Linked DNA regions of Homo sapiens: region 2 is linked to region 1. Evidence: fine-mapped expression QTL. Tissue or cell type: whole blood. Region 1 holds a variant in brackets; the other region holds the start of a gene. All regions are shown on one strand. Distances are between the middles of the regions.

The links. PIP is the estimated chance that this variant, and not a neighbour inherited with it, causes the effect.
Region 2: it holds the start of DSP, and the variant in region 1 is fine-mapped to the expression of DSP in whole blood (TOPMed, PIP 0.92).

The regions. Positions count from the first base shown.
Region 1 is chr6:7,434,103-7,442,206 of GRCh38, forward strand. The region is part of intron 2 of LOC102724234 (a long non-coding RNA gene); the gene reads left to right. Among named protein-coding and RNA genes, the nearest start is that of RIOK1, 48 kb to the left of the region's middle. The variant G/A (reference allele first, on the strand shown) is at 4,735.
Region 2 is chr6:7,538,550-7,546,653 of GRCh38, forward strand. It overlaps DSP (desmoplakin), which reads left to right and starts at 3,122. Exons shown (of 24, transcript NM_004415.4): 1 at 3,122-3,536. The coding sequence starts at 3,367. It overlaps DSP-AS1 (DSP antisense RNA 1), which reads right to left and starts at 4,534. Exons shown (of 2, transcript NR_183331.1): 1 at 4,497-4,534; 2 at 1,902-2,504. RefSeq lists an enhancer at 1-1,110.

The DNA.
Region 1 (8,104 bases):
AATAACTCCCATAAGCTTAGCATTCCGATAATGGAACACTAGGCATAAATGGGCTAATGACCTCTTTCCTTCCTTGGGCTCTTTTTATGTAGCTTTTATGCTGCTGGTTTTTGTTTTTTTTTTTTTTTTTTGAGTCTTACTTTGTCACCCAAGCTGGAATGCAGTAGTGCAAACATGGCTTACTGCAGCCTCAACTTCCCAGGCACAAGAGATCTTCTCACTTCAGCCCCCTAAATAGCAGGACTACAGGGGCACACCACCACACCTGGCTAATTTTTTTTTTTTTTTTTTTGGTAGAGATGGGGTTTTGCCATGTTGTCCAGGCTGTTCTCAAACTCTCCGAGCTCAAGCGATTTGTCCACCTTAGCCTTCCAAAGTGCTGGGATTACAGGCGTGAGCCACCGCGCCTGGCCTCACGCTGCATTCATAAAGAGACTTACCACACGGAGTCTGATTGGAGGTTGCAATAGAGGTTTGAAAGCTAGGAGTAAATGTTTACGTTAAACATAGACTTATGTGGCTTAGATTCTTTTCCCAACATCCCATCCTCCTATCAAAATAAAATAAAACTTCTTCCCCAGCAAGTAGAAAGTTGATGAAAATCAAAAAAACCATATAGTTCATTCACTGTATTATTTTTCTAAATTGAATATTATTCTAAGCCTATCAACAGAATGCTATTGGGGAATATACAAGGGTTATATGTTATCTCCTATCCTTAATATTGCTGTTTCTTATGCAATAACACACACGTGGACACACACACACTCACATGTTCACACTCACACACAAATGATTTGGAAAGAATGTGAGGTCTAAGTGCTAAATTGTGTGGCCCAGAGGTACATGCCATAGATGTACAGAGAAAGGAGCAAATTGCATGGATTGGAGTGGTTGGGTGGGACTGGTAGGACCAGAGCCAGACTGAGGGATGGATAGGTTTGGGTGGGGACTGGGAGGGTGAAAAGCTGAGCTACATGCCAGAGGTAGATGACAGAGAACCTGCTCTGCCTGGATGGAAGAGTGCACCAACTGGTGTGCTTCTGGTTGCAAGTAACAGTAAACCCTGACTTGCACCGAGATGATCACCAGAAATATCCCAGAACTAAAATATGAAGATAAGACAGTTTTCAGGGCCACAAAGAGGTGAAAAAAACCCGAGAAGATGGTAAGATAATCAGATTTCCACATCTGTGACACCCCTCCCCTCGTTCTACCTGGCAGCAAGTGTGTGGAAAATTTCCCCCCAACTCACTGTTTCTACACTGGTGTAAGTAAGATCAAGGTCAACAAACAGCTCCCCCACCATCTTGGGTTCCCCGGCAGGAGATCCGTTCCTTCCTTAACCCACAGGAAGCATAAAAGGAGAAATATCTCTGAGAACAGGCAGAGACAAAGGGAGGAGGCAGGACTACCATCCCCACCCTGGAAATTCTGTTCTGTAACTCAACCAAAGGAGGCACCAAGTCAGAGTGACTATTTAGCAGTACGACACTGTAGGGGGTTCAGCTCACAGGTCCCCTGGGCACAAACTCCTAGCCAGGAAGGGCAGTATACTGATCAGTTACTAGAGTCAAAGTGAACCTGGGCTTTAAGGTGCCACCCAGAGCTGAAAAGGGGGCAGTGGCCTAGCAGTGAATAACTTCTAAGCAAATATATTCAATAAAAACCCAAACAAGCTAGAGAAGACTGGAATACATAATGTTTCAATGCAAAGACAGACGTACATCCAGAAGAAACAACGGCAAACAGGGAACAACAATCCTCCAAAATGGACAAACCAAGGAACCAGTAACTGACCCCAACAGGATGGTGATATGTGAGCTCTCTGACCAATAAGTCAAATAGTAGTTTTAAGGAAACTCAGTGATCTCCAAGATAATACAGAAAAGCAATTCAGAAATTCATCAGAGAAATTTAACAAAGAGATTGAAATAACAACAAACAAACAGAAATATTGGAACTAAGAAATACATTTGCTGAATTAAAATATTCATTAGAGGCTCTCAACAGCAGAATGGATCAAGTTGAGCCAAGAATCAGTGAGCTAAAGACAGGTTATTTGAAAACACACAATTGGAGGAGAAAATAGAATAAAAAGCAATCAAGTGGCCGGGTGCAGTGGCTCATGTCTGTAATCCTAGCAATTTGGGAGGCCAAGGTGGGCAGATCACCTGAGGTCAGGAGTTCGAGACCATCCTGTCTAACATGGTAAAACCCTGTCTCTACTAAAAATGCAAAAAAAATTAGCTGGGCATGGTGGCACACGCCTGTAGTTCCATTTACTCCGGAGGCTGAGGCAGAAGAATCGCTTGAACCCAGGAGGCAGAGGTTGCAGTGAGCCGAGATCATGCCACTGCACTCCGGTCTGGGTGACAGAGTGAGACTCTGTCTCAAAAAAAAAAAAAAAAAAAGAAAAAAAGACTCCAGGGTATTTGGGCAGACAGCTCCTGTCATCTGTCTCCTCTGCCTTCTGCATTATCTCCACTCTCTTCCAAAGTGCAGATTCCTCCCTTTCCTAATTAAAGAGTATGCTTGATAGCTTTTCCCACACCTTGCCCATCATTTCCTCTCTCCTTTTTTTTTTTTTTTTTTTGGAGACAGGTCTCACTCTGTTATTCAGTCTGGAGTGCAGCGGCATGATCTTGGCTCATCACAACCTCCGCCTCCTGGGTTCAAGCAATTCTCCTACCTCAGCCTCTCGAGTAGCTGGGACTACAGGTGTGCACCACCGTGCCTGGCTAATTTTTGTATTTTTAGTAGAGATGGGGTGTCACCATGTTGGTCAGGCTGGTCTCGAACTCCTGACCTCAGGTGATCCACCTGCCTCGGCCTCCCAAAGTGCTGGGATTATAGGCGTGAGCCACTGGCCCCGGCCTATGGTGCTGTGTTCTTACAGTTCTAGAGACAGCCTCTGGTTCAGAGGAGAAAGAAGGGTCTGGTTCTACAGAGTTTCTCAATCTTGTTCTATGAGCTACTTCTTTGAGAAACAGCTTGAGCTACAGGTGTGTGTCCGTAAGCTGTTGAGACGGGCAGCTGCATGAACAGAAAGGGTGTGGGCCACTCAGATAAGGGTGACTATGAGATAAAGAAATGACAGGTCTCGGGGCTGAGTGTGGTGGCTCCTACCTGTAATCCCAGCACTTTGGGAGGCCAAGGCGGGAGGATCACTTGAGCCTAGGAGTTTGAGACCAGCCTAGGAGTTCAAAACATAGTGTGACCCCCATCTCTACAAATTTTTTTTTAAATTAGCTGGCATGGTGGCACAAGCTTACAGTTCAGCTACTAGTGAAGATGAGGGGGAAAGATTGCTTGAGCCGGGGAGATACAGGCTGCCGTGAGCCAAGATCGCATCAGTGCACTCCAGCATGGGAGACAAAGTGAGACTGTCTCAAAAAGGAAAAAAAAGAAGAAAACGAAAGAAAGAAAGAAAAGAAAAGAAGAAAGAAGAAAATAAAGGAAAGAAAGAAAAGAAAAGAAAAAAGAAGAAAATAAAGGAAAGAAAGAAAGAGAGGAAAGGAAAGGGATGGGACAGGGAGGGGAGAGGAGGGGAGGGGAGGAAAGAAAAAAGAAAAGAAAAGGACAGACAGCCACAATATGACTGAGAGAGGGTAGATTTTGACCAGATGTCTGAGCTAGGAAAAACCGTGAGGAGAGGAGACAATAAACTCCAAACCCAGTTTAAGATGGAAGTCTGGCTGGGTGTGGTGGCTTACGCCTATAATCCCAGCAGTTTGGGAGGTCGAGGTGGGCAGAAAACCTGAGGTCAGGAGTTTGAGACCAGCCTGACTAACATGGAGAAGCCGTCTCTACTGAAAATACAAAATTAGCCGGGCATGGTGGTGCGTACCTGTAACCCCAGCTACGCGGGAGGCTGAGGCAGGAGAATCACTTGAACCTGGGAGGCAGAGGCTGCGGTAAGCAAAGATTGCGCCATTGCACTCTAGCCTGGGCAACAAAAGCAAAACTCCGTCTCAATAAATAAATAAATAAATAAATAAATAAAAAGGAAGTCTTGAGAATAATCTGCTCATTTAAAGAAAAAAGAAAAAGGGAGGGGGTGGACTTTAGTTCCACATGTGTTGTGGCCTGGCTGTGAATGTGCTGTGGGTTTCCACAATAAAGGCCTGGCCAAGGACTCATCATGCCCCAAATCCTAGATGAGAAACTTTCATAAGTCAGAGGGCCTGGCCCTTCTGACTCTCAGATTCTGAAAATTAGTTTTTACCTTGATTTGGACAAGAAGATTTATTGGGTGGGGGGTTTTCCTACAAATTTGAAAACTTCTAAAAGCCATTTGAATTTTACATCTATATTGAAATATGGGAAACTGGCCTTTGTAAAGATGTTTTTCACTTCTTTTTTTTTTTTTTTTTTTCCCGAGACAGAGTCTTGCTCTGTCACTTAGGCTGGAGTGCAGTGGTGTGATCTTGGCTCACTGCAACCTCCGCCTCCTGGGTTTAAGCAATTCTCCTGCCTCAGCCTCCAGAGTAGCTGGGATTAGAGGTGTGTGTCACCATGCCTGGCTAATTTTTTTTTTTTGTATTTTTAGTAGACAGGATTTCACCATGTTGGCCTGGCTGGTCTTGAACTCCTGACCTCATGATCCACCCACCTTGGCCTCCCAAAATGCTAGGATTACAGGTATGAGCCACCACGCCCGGCCTTGTTTTTCACTTCTATAAAAAGCATTGATAGAAAGGATGCATACTTTCATGATTTAAACTTCCTATG[G/A]ATGTCTCATGTAATTAATATCATTGCTTCAAAGATGAGTTGTGAATTTCTTATGGAAATTAAATAACTCTACCTGTTTTGGATGAGAAATTTCATTCATTTTAGTGTTAGCCTACCATAATGATAGCCAGGGGATTCTGTTTCTTTATTGTGAAAAAAAGGTCTAAACTTTATATTAATGTTACTTTAGTTTAGAATAAACATTTTTTCCACTTGCAAAAACATCCAATATTGCCGTTTCACTTTTTGTCAAATGTATATGTATGTACTTATTTTTCTTTTTTAAAAGGTTTGAGACAGGGTCTCACTCTGTCACCCAGGCTGGAGTACAGTGGCTCGACCTCAGCTCACTACAACCTCTGCCTCCTGGGCTCAATCAATCTTCCCACATCAGCCTCGTAGGTAGGTGGGACTACAGGTGCACGCCACCACATCCACTTATTTTTTGTATTTTTTGTAGAGATGGGGTCTCACTGTGTTGCTCAAGCTGGTCTCAAACTTCTGGGCTCAAGCCATCTGCCTGCCTTGGCCTCCCAAGTGCTAGGATTACAGACATGAACCATCATGCCACGCCCTTATTTTTCAAAGTCAATCAAATTATTAAGTTAAAAAAAACCACTTCCCCTATACCCACTTCCCCAATTTCTCCTTTGCTAGTGTCAGTTATGTTCTTTTAACTGATTATTTTGGTATTTACCTGGATAAATTTAATTAACAAGCTTGTATTGCTTTATTTTTCAGTTTAAAACATTAGTTATTTTCTTCTATGAAAGTTGAAGATTTAGTTCTTCATTCTCCACATATTTTCACTTCTGTCCTCTTGCCTGTCATCCCAGTTATGTTTTAACTTTTATTACTTTTTGTTAGACACGGAGTCTCCCTATGCTGCCCAGAGCAGATTTGAACTCCAGGGTTCAAGCCATCCTTCTGCCTCAGTCTCCCGGGTAGCTTGGAGTTTTCACATCAATTTCCATTATTTGTGTCAGTGTGACTATCTGTGTTCAGAGTCAATCTTGTAATATTGCAACTACTTTTTTCTTTTGTGCTTAGCTATTAAGTTTCCCCCAAATTAACAACTGTCCTTTTTTTTAAAAAATTGCCTACTTTTCTGTCTGCTGTGGCTAATTCAACTCCAAACTTTCTGCTCATTGTCTGGGTCCTGTCCCAGTAGGTTCATTTTCATCATATATCCTCCCAGTTTGGTCTCCATGCAGACCCTCCGGGCTAGTTGCTCCCACGCTGGTGTCCAGCAATCATCTGGCAGGCCCCTTTTCCCGTCACACGGGGATTCTCTTCATCTCTCCACCATCAAGTCTCCAGTTCCTTGACTTATTTTTCATCTCCTTGTCATTTTACTCTGGGAGATTTCCAGTTTTACCTTGAACTTTTCATTTCTATTATATTTTTAATTTCCAATAGATCTTTCTTTGTTCTCTTGAATGCTACTTTAAAAAAACTCATTGTGGGCCGGGCGCGGTGGCTCATGCCTGTCATCCCAGCACTTTGGGAGGTTGAGGTGGGCGGATCACGAGGTCAGGAGATCGAGACCATCCCTGGCCAACATGGTGAAACCCCGTCTCTACTAAAAATAAAAAAATTAGCCTGGCGTGGTGGCGCGTGCCTGTAATCCCAGCTACTCCAGAGGCTGAGGCAGGAGAATCACTTGAACCTGGGAGGCGGAGGTTGCAGTGAGCTGAGATCACGCCACAGCACTCCAGCCTGGCGACAGAGAGAGACTCCGTCTCAAAACAAAACAAAAAACTAAAACAAAACAAAAAACCTCATTGCATTCTTCTTTTATGAATACACTCTCTTTTCTCTATATTGCTGTCATCTGGCTTTAAAAACATGCTGTCCTGACTTGGTTTTGAGTCTCTAGCTAGAGACAGGTCAGTTTCCCTTATTAATACTCGAGGGGGTTCTGGAAGTTATCTTTTCTCTGCAGTGTCCCATTTCCCCAAGTTGCTTTTCCCCCTTCCTTGCGTCTCCTTGATATTAGAGACTTTGGTGGTATGCTGCTGCATTCTTTAGGGTGTAAACATTCACACCACCCTCCCCACTGACTCTCGGGTCCTCCCCCGCAGCTGTGCCCCTGGTCCCCAGTGCAGAGACCTTCTCCTTTCCCCTCTCCTGAAAATACATCTGTCCCCAGGCTTGTGCTGCAGTGGGAAAGGGCCCGTCCAGGAGTCGGGGAGGGATCCTGGAATTTAAAAGCATCTTTAACAGCTCCTCCTCAGAAACCCAGTCACACTTCCTTCCCCGCTAGTGAGAGGTGCCAGCCTGCTGGCAGCCCCCCTTCGCTCTTGGCACCTCCTCGGCCTCGACGCCCACTCTGGCCGTGCTTGAGGAGTCCTTCAGCCTACCGCTGCACTGTGGGATCCCTTCCAGGGATGGCCGAGGCCGGAGCCGGCTCCCTTGGCTTGCGGGGAGGTGTGGAGGGACAGGCACGGGCAGTAACCGGGGATGCGCGCGGCGCTTGCGGGCCAGAGCGAGTTCTGGGTGGGCTTGGGCTCGGCCGGCCCCGCCGGCCCAGGCAGTGAGGAACTTAGCACTTGGGCCAACAACGGCTGTCCTCGATTTCTTGCCAGGCCTTAGCTGCTTCCCCATGGGGCAGGGCTCGGGACCTGCAGCCCACCATGCCTGAGCCCCCCGTCCCAACCCCGCCCTGGGCTCCTGCACAGCCCGAGTCTCCTGAGCCTCCCGGACGAGCGCCGCCCCCTACTTCACAGCACAGAGTCCCATTGACCGCCCAAAGGACTAAACAGTGCGGGTCCACGGGCGGGACTGACAGCTCTACCTGCGGCCCCGCTGGGGAATACCACCGGGTGAAGCCAGCTGGGCTCAGTCAGTCTGGTGGGGACTTGAACAATCTTTATGTCTAGCTAAGGGGTTGTAAATACACCAATCAGCACTCTGTATCTAGCTCAAGGTTTGTAAACACACCAATCAACACCCTCTGTCTAGCTCAGGGTTTGTGGCTGCACCAATCGGCACTCTGTATCTAGCTAATCTGGTGGGGACTTGGAGAACCTTTTTATCTAGCTAAGGGATTGTGAATACACCAATCGGCACTCTGTATGTAGATGAAGGTTTGTAAATGCACCAATCAGCACCCTGCGTCTAGCTCAAGGTTTGTAAATGCACCAATCGGCGTTCTGTGTCTAGCTGATCTGGTGGGGACTTGCAGAACCTTTATGTCTATCTAAGGGATTGTGAATGCACCAATCGGCACTCTGTATCTAGCTCAAAGTTTGTAAATGCACCAATCAGCACTCTGTGTCTAGCTCAGGGTTTGTAAATACACCAATTAACACTCTGCATCTAGTTAATCTAGTGGGGACGTGGAGAACTTTTGTGTCTAGCTCAGGGA
Region 2 (8,104 bases), 100 kb after region 1:
TGCATAAGTAAATTGTAGCACTAAGATTATAACTATGGGCAAGTTATCCTCGCTCTTCACTGTGTGATGAGCCAACCTGGACAACTGATGTGTGTGTGTGTGTATGTGCATGTGTGTGGGTGTGTGTTGAGGTGGGGGGTGTTCCATCTGTCGGGCATGTCAATCTGTTTATTTTATCCTCTTATCTTTCTTTATCACCCTTAGAGAAAGATAAATGAAAGCCACTGTCTTCCTAGAGCAGGCATGTTTGGTAGCTGGAAGCCGTTCGTGTTCTTGGGGATGCCTGGAAAAGCCCAGGAAGCAGTAAGATGGGTGAGGAAGCAACGCAGCCAGAGGTGTGATTGGTGGCGTGGGCTCTTCGCCTCCTCCTCTGTTTTGCCTGCAGATTGAACAGTTTTGTGAGTCTGGGTGGTGTTTGGGTCTGTGTGGAGCCTGGTTCCTATGACCGTAAGGGGACCCTTGGCTAACAAGAGCTTTTGTTACCACTGGGGGGGTGGTTAATAGATATGTGGGTTTTTTTTAAAAGGATAATTCTACCGTGCAATTGTGTAGCCTCTTTATTACACATTAGGGAAGAATAATCCCTGAATTTTTTTTTTTTTTTTTTTTTTGAGACAGAGTCTTGCTCTGTTACCTGGGCTGCAGTGCAATGACACGATCTCTGCTCAATATAATCTCCACCTCCTGGATTCAAGTGATACTCGTGCCTTTGCCTCCCAAACAGCTAGGATTACAGGCGCCTGCCACCACACCCAGCTAATTTTTGTATTTTTAGTAGAGATGGGGTTTCATCATGTTGGCCAGGCTGGTCTCGAACTCCTGACCTCAAGTGATCCACCCGCCTCTGCCTCCCAAAGTGCTGGGATTACAGGCATGAGCCACCGCACGGGCCCCTGAATTTCTTAAATCAAAGTTTTACTATAATATATTTAAGGGCAGTGACTGGACCCTATTTATCTTTGTATGTTGCAGAGTATTTCCATATCCTAGGTTATAATTATTTGCTGAACAAATGAGATGCATAGAGGGAAAACATCCTAAATGAAATGTTGTACATTATGCACTGACATTTTCCCTCCATGCATGTCTTTCTCTCCTCCACCAATGGATATTATGGGCTGTTTGTGCAGAGGCTGACTTCCAGCCATTGATTCTGTTTGAGAAAAACCACCGTCTTGTCTATAGATCAGTGTTTGTACAGGTTGAGCATCCCTAATCTGAAAATCTGAAATCCAAAATGCTCCCAAATCCAAACTTTCTGAGCACTGACATGATGACCACAAGTGGCGAATTCCACACCTGACCTCATGTGATGACTTGCAGTCAAAGTGCAGTCAAAACTTTGTTTCATGCACAAAATTATCTAAAATATTGTATAAAATTACCTTCAGGCCATGTGTATAAGGCATATAGAAAACATAAATAAATTTCATGTTTAGGCTTGAGTTCCATCCCCAAAGATCTCTCGTTACGTCTATGCAACTATTGCAAAATCCAAGAAAATCCAGAATCCAAAATATTTCTGGTCCCAAGCATTTTGGATAAGGGGTACTCAATCTGTATAATCATTTAAACACTTGACCACTTTGGTTTTATTAAAGATTCGAGGAAATTGAGACTACGATGCAAATTATTGGTTGTGCTAACAGTGATAAACTTTTATCTCATTATATGTGTTTACTCCTTGAATTTAAGACGTTCAGCTGTAAAAAGAAAAAGAACAAGACATTTTGTCAAAAATTATGCCTAAAGGGTCAAGTTGTCATGAGAAGTGCTATAATACGACAAATTTTAGAAAGTCCCCCCCACTCCCTTTACAACATAAAAATGTAGTTTTTTATTTTTGTTTTCAGTTCATAAACATTTTGGAAACGCACTGTATCAGAAGGTAATTAGCGGCATTGTTTGGAAAGATGAAAAATTTATTAGAAAAGATCTTTAAATGGCTTTTACTAAAGCGTCATTTAACAATTTTTCATATTATAGAAACAGCTTTTCATGGATGGTGTGACTGGGTCTGTATCCAAACCCGGTTCGGTTCCTGGAGCCAACGGCGTAGTTAACACTCAGCCTCTTGCAGTTAACACTCAGCCTCTTAACTGGGAGTGGCCCTGGAGCAAGTCGCTGGAATGTTCAAGCTCCGCGTCACTCATCGGTACCAAGTTGATGATCTCTGCCTAGGGTTCTTCGCCACCCTCAGGCTCAAGTCCCAGGAGGCCTCCTCCGCTGACTTGGGTGAACAGCTCTGAGTTCCGGAGAGGGTTCGGTCTGCGGAGAAGCGCGCGAGAGACAAGCATCCTCAAGGTTCTGGTACAAAATTTGGAAAATGGACCTGGCGTTGAAATCTTTACTCCTCGTTTAAAAAGACCATCGAAAGGGAAAAAATAAAAGAAATTGCAGTTTATATTTTTGTTATCCCATGAAAAATTAGCTGCAGTGTTTTCCTCTTCATGCCAAAGAGATTAATATTTACGGTGAAGACTTTTCCAGGAAGTCGTGGTTTTCTGTAAAAAAAGGTTTTACACATCAGAAATCGGACTTCTGGGGCAATTTCCTGAATTCCTGGAATAAAACAAAACAAAAAAAAGCCCCCAAACAAAACTCTATCATCTAAAGCGTTCCCTCCTCACTGTGGTCCTAGTCAATGCGTGGTAGGTAGCGTTTCCAGTGATCAACAAAAGTAAATATTTGACCAGTAAGTCTCCAATCGAGAGGCCCCTCCATTCCAGCTATTTCCGCCCGGGGACCGAGGAAATCCTCAAAAGCCGGGCCACGCATTCCCAGCCCGAGAGGCCCCAGCGCAGAGCGCAGCAGCCCCCGCGAGCGCAGGTCCTCCCCGCGGTGGCTTCGCCCAGGGCGCTTGGGTCTCGGGGACCCCGCCCCCGCCCCGCCCGGTGTTACTCAGGCCTCGGTGGCGCAGGGCGGAGTCGCGGGCGGCGGGCGCAGGTGGGGAGGGGCGGCCGGAGCGCGTCGGTGACACCCGCGGGGGGGCGGGGAAGGCGCGGCGGCCGCACCCCACCCTGGGAAGAAACCGGCCAGGTGTGGCCTAGGCGCCCAGTGCCAGCGGGGAGGAGACTCGCTCCGCCGCCGACCAACACCAACACCCAGCTCCGACGCAGCTCCTCTGCGCCCTTGCCGCCCTCCGAGCCACAGCTTTCCTCCCGCTCCTGCCCCCGGCCCGTCGCCGTCTCCGCGCTCGCAGCGGCCTCGGGAGGGCCCAGGTAGCGAGCAGCGACCTCGCGAGCCTTCCGCACTCCCGCCCGGTTCCCCGGCCGTCCGCCTATCCTTGGCCCCCTCCGCTTTCTCCGCGCCGGCCCGCCTCGCTTATGCCTCGGCGCTGAGCCGCTCTCCCGATTGCCCGCCGACATGAGCTGCAACGGAGGCTCCCACCCGCGGATCAACACTCTGGGCCGCATGATCCGCGCCGAGTCTGGCCCGGACCTGCGCTACGAGGTGACCAGCGGCGGCGGGGGCACCAGCAGGATGTACTATTCTCGGCGCGGCGTGATCACCGACCAGAACTCGGACGGCTACTGGTGGGTACCTGCCCGGAGAGCGCGGGCTGCGGGGCTCGCGGGACAGGGAGGGACCGTCCTCCTCTGGACGACTGGGAGACTCGGGTCCCGAAGGTGGAAAGGTTTTTTTGCCCCAGGTCCCGAAAGAACTTCCCGGCCGCGCTGGGAGCAGGACCGGGTGTCCTGACGCGTGCGGGGACAGGTTGGCCCCTGTCCTGCGAACAGGGACTCGGTCGTACCTTTCTCCCCTCCCGCGAGCCCGGGCGGGTGGTCAGAGGGGGCGTCGGGCCCGCGCGGGGCTGTCCCCTGCCTGCTGGACACGGCTGCAGCCGCCTTTGTCCCAGCCCGCGAATGGGAGGTCAGGCGAGGTGGGGCTGCGACCACAAAACCCAACCTCTCCAACCGTAATCAAAGTAAAAGAGGAAAGGAGCGGGGCCCCGGTCCTGTCTGGTGGCCGAGTGGTGCTCGGGGCTCCGCAGTCTCTACCGGCTCACCCCCAATCCCCAGTAACCCCGAGACCACGACTGCAACGACTCCTGGACTCCTCGGCCACCCAAGGACGTTTGTATCAAGGCTGCGCGTCCCGGCGGCGCGGGGTCCTGTCCCGAGGAGGCGCTTCGGCTTCCCCTGTCCGGGAAACGAAACTTCCCCGCCGGGGCGGCTGCCGGGCCCGGGTCTCGAAGTTCGGCCGGGACGTGCCTGTTACCTTCGGTCGTCCGCGCCGCAGCCCCCGCGGGCGAGCGCACCTGGGGCCCTGCCTCTGAGCCTTTTGTTTCCTCCTTTTTAAAAACACCGGATGAAAGACCCCAGTGTGCCTTGGATCGCAGAGCGCCGGCCGCATGTCTGCTTTGATCCAGAATGTGTGGGCAGGGGAGTGGGGGGGTGGGAGAGGACGACGCTGGGGGCCCGCCCTGGCCTAGGCGCCCCGGGAAGACCCCCCGGTGAGAGGGTCAGCTTCTCCGGATCCCAGCGGAAACAGACCGAGGGCGTCATTTGGGTGGGTGGGGAAGAGATCCTGTCCCTGCTTTGACCGGGTCTCGGGAGCTGGACTCTAGATGCCCACGTGAGCCGTGCGCGTTTTGCAGCCCGCCCCACCTCCCCGCCCCCTGCTAGTTGTTCCCACGTCGGGCTTTTGGGAAAGAGGCCCTGAGCGCCGGGACGTTATTTACCAGGCGTTGTGGCCCTAGGCCTGGGAGGAGCAACCTGAATGCGCTCCAGGGAGTTTTGTTTTGCAAGCAGTTTTGAAGGCAGGGACTACTCGAGTTGCAACCTGTTTTCTGCTTAGATTCATTTATTTATTTATGGGGCATCCTGAAAATCTATTTTCGCTTTTTTTTTTTTTTTTTTTTTTGAGTTAGCAAAGAATTGTCTCAATCTTGGAGTTCTTTGTTTCCTGAACAAAATGTGTCTGGGGATTTCCAGGGAAAATGTGCCAAGCAATAGAAGGAATGAAAACTTGGGTTTTCATTACATTTGTTTTAAAATTTTGCCAGCCATTTAAATCTGAAATTTAAATTTTCTCCCGCAGTCCTCCAGGATTTGAGATGCACATCCTTTAAATGTGTGGGTTACACACAGTTTAAATCCAAGTCAGAATAGAATGCGAAGGACTCTTTAGTAGCTCTTTTTGGCGTTTTCATGAACCAAGTATTTATTTTGATTATTATTTATAACTATGCTTTTGCTAGCTTGGATTTCTTATCTTTTAAATAGACAATAATCAGTACTATTAATCGAATATTTCACTCCCTTGGCTTCTTATACCTTTTGTAGGGGAGTAAAACTTTAATAAATTAAGTGGTTAATGAACTGCATCAAGGTACATGTTTTATTAGGATTCCCCATTGAAACATTTAATTTTGGGCAGGCTCCATGTTTTTTCCTTGTGTAGTATCATCCCGTGCTCTGTTTTTCCAACTTAAAGCCTACTTACAAACTTGTCAAGTCTCACATCTCTCTGGGAAGGGGAAAGAGACCCAAGTGAAAAATTACCTGACTTTGAGGAAGGATGTTTTTTCTTCTCATTAATGTTGCTCTGCCCGGCAGCAGGGCGTCAAGCTCAGGGCTTGAGTCGGGAGGCGGTCATTCTTTCCGGGGATCCTGGCAATGGAGGTTCCTCTCGAGCCTGACCCAGCCTGCAGTGGTGCTACTGACTACAAAATAGCCCACAAATGCTGACTTCTGCGTTTTCAAATAATAGCGACCGCCTGAAGGCAGGGCATGTCGCAGTTTTTCTGGTGGCATTCTGGTTTTGTGTGGAGGGATATGTTTGGCTGTGGCGTGCACTTTGTAGAAGCAGGGTGCCCTCTGTGCCCAAGGGAGCCACTGCTCTCTGCTAAGTGAATGATGATTAAGAATTTCATAAGTATTTTTCTGACCCGAAGGTTTTCTAAATAAAGGTTTTTGTGGTTTTCTTTTCTTTCTTTCTTTTTTTTTTTTTAGCATGAAAACTAGTATAAAAACTATTGGTTGACTTTAAACTCATTTATTTCAAAAACTGCTACTTTATGGCTGAATTATTAATAGATTGGTGATTTTTGAGATGAGTGTTTTGTATCTAGCCCTTCCCTGAATAAAGAAATTTGAATGTGTGGAGGGCCCAACTCTTAGTTTTCCTTTGAAAATGACTTTAAAACATCTCTCTCTCTCTCTGTCCTTTCCACGAACAGCACTTACCCGTTTTTAGGACAGTATTAGATCTCATTGTATCCTAATTCCCTCTTTTTCCCCCGACCACCTGCCTGTTCTTTGTGTCTTTGTTTTAGATTGAATGGAATCTGCAACTACTTAATTTTGTTAACATTTGGTAAATGTTACAACCTTGATAATGAAATAATAGACATGTACATGTTTTGAAATGTAAATTTTGGATTCTTCTTGGATAGGACATTATATTAATACTGTTTTCAATTACAGCAGAATTACTCTAGTCTTATTCCTGTCATTAAAACAAATTATAAATAGTGAAATTTGTTACCAAAGTAACAAAGTCTCACAGTTAGATCTTTCTTTCACCCATCAAAGGGTGAATTTGTGGGAGGATTAAAAGCAGAAAATAGTCATTAAGTTTCAGAAATATGTGGTTATAATATTAATGCTTATTTTTCTTCAGATCTCATGATTTCAAAACTGAGATACGTGTGATCATTATTTCATATACATTTTAAAGTTAGTCTTAAATTAGGTTTTAAGAGAAGCTTATTTCTTACTATGAGACAAACAGGTCAATTTGCCTGAATTTTAGAGCGGGGGGACCCCTAAGGATCACTTAGCCTAGGCAGAAACCCCACACGCACACTTCAGAGACAGGAAGCTGAGGACGTGCCGAAGATCCTAGAATCCACTTAGGGCTGGGTTGGCCTGAGGACCCAAGGATCCTCACCTTGGTTTTCCCTGTGCCTTCACAGCCTGACTTTTAGAATGGACAGGCCTGTAATTACACCATGCAAGTATCTCAAATTCCATTAATTCCTTAATTCAGCAAGTATTTACCGAGCATTGACTGCATTCTGTGTTAAGTGTCAGGGGAGATCAAGGTGGAAATCTATAGCCTTGAAAGGAGTGTAGGCCCTTCCAAGGAAGATAAGTACACGAAGACTAGCACGCAAAAGCGGAATGCACAGGAGGGGTGTACGTGACTTCAGAGACTTCACAAGGAGGTGAGAGAACATCTGTCGTGGGGGCACTGGGAAGACTTTATAAAGGAAGTGGTGTCGAACTAGACTTTGGAGTATTTCAGCTGTGTCAGGATGGGTGGGCAGAGAGCCTTCCAGAGGGAGAGAAGAGCATGAGAAAAGTCTGCGAAGCCTGTGGAGTGATCTCCTTTTAGAGCATTCTCTCTGAGCAGGGAGGCAGTAAGATGAAAGGAAGAAGCATCCTTTTTTGACCAAGGCATTGGAGACCTTGAATGCCCCGGAGAGGGATTTGGATAGGCAGAGGGAAGCTGGTGCAGGTTTTCACTGAAGCCATTGAAAGTCTCCTCCATTGGAGGAGCAGGGAAGTGAGACGATCATAACTGAGCTTCTGGACTGTTTAGGCGTTGGCTTAAGGAAGCCATTGCACCAGTGAAGGAGGGAGGGAATGAAAGTCTGAACCAGGGTGAGGGCAGTGGATGGAAAAGTAGGTATTGCCAAGGTGGAGTGACAGCTTCAGCTAAGAATTGGATGCGAGAGACAAGGGAGAGTCTGAGAAAACAGGCCCAGAGCTCGAGTGACTCATAGCGTAGATAGTCTAAACACTTTTCTGGGAAATTATTGCAAAGCAAGATTTAGTTTAGCTTAATATACGGCAGGTAACATTTACATGGTTATTAAATTTAACTTGTATATTTTATAAAAATATCAGGTCTGTGGTTAATAATAGTTACCATTACCCAGCAAATACCTGTGATGTGCCTTGTATAGGATGTTTGTTATCTCAAGCCTCATAACAAACTTCCCAGTTTACAGATGGGAAGCTGAGGTTAAAATATTTAAATGGCTTGCCTAAGGTCACACAGCTAGTTAAGTTGTTAAGCTAGATTTGAATCCAGTATACCACAATGACGCAAGAGAAGATTAAACCTGCAGTGTGAGAATTCACCTTTTCTA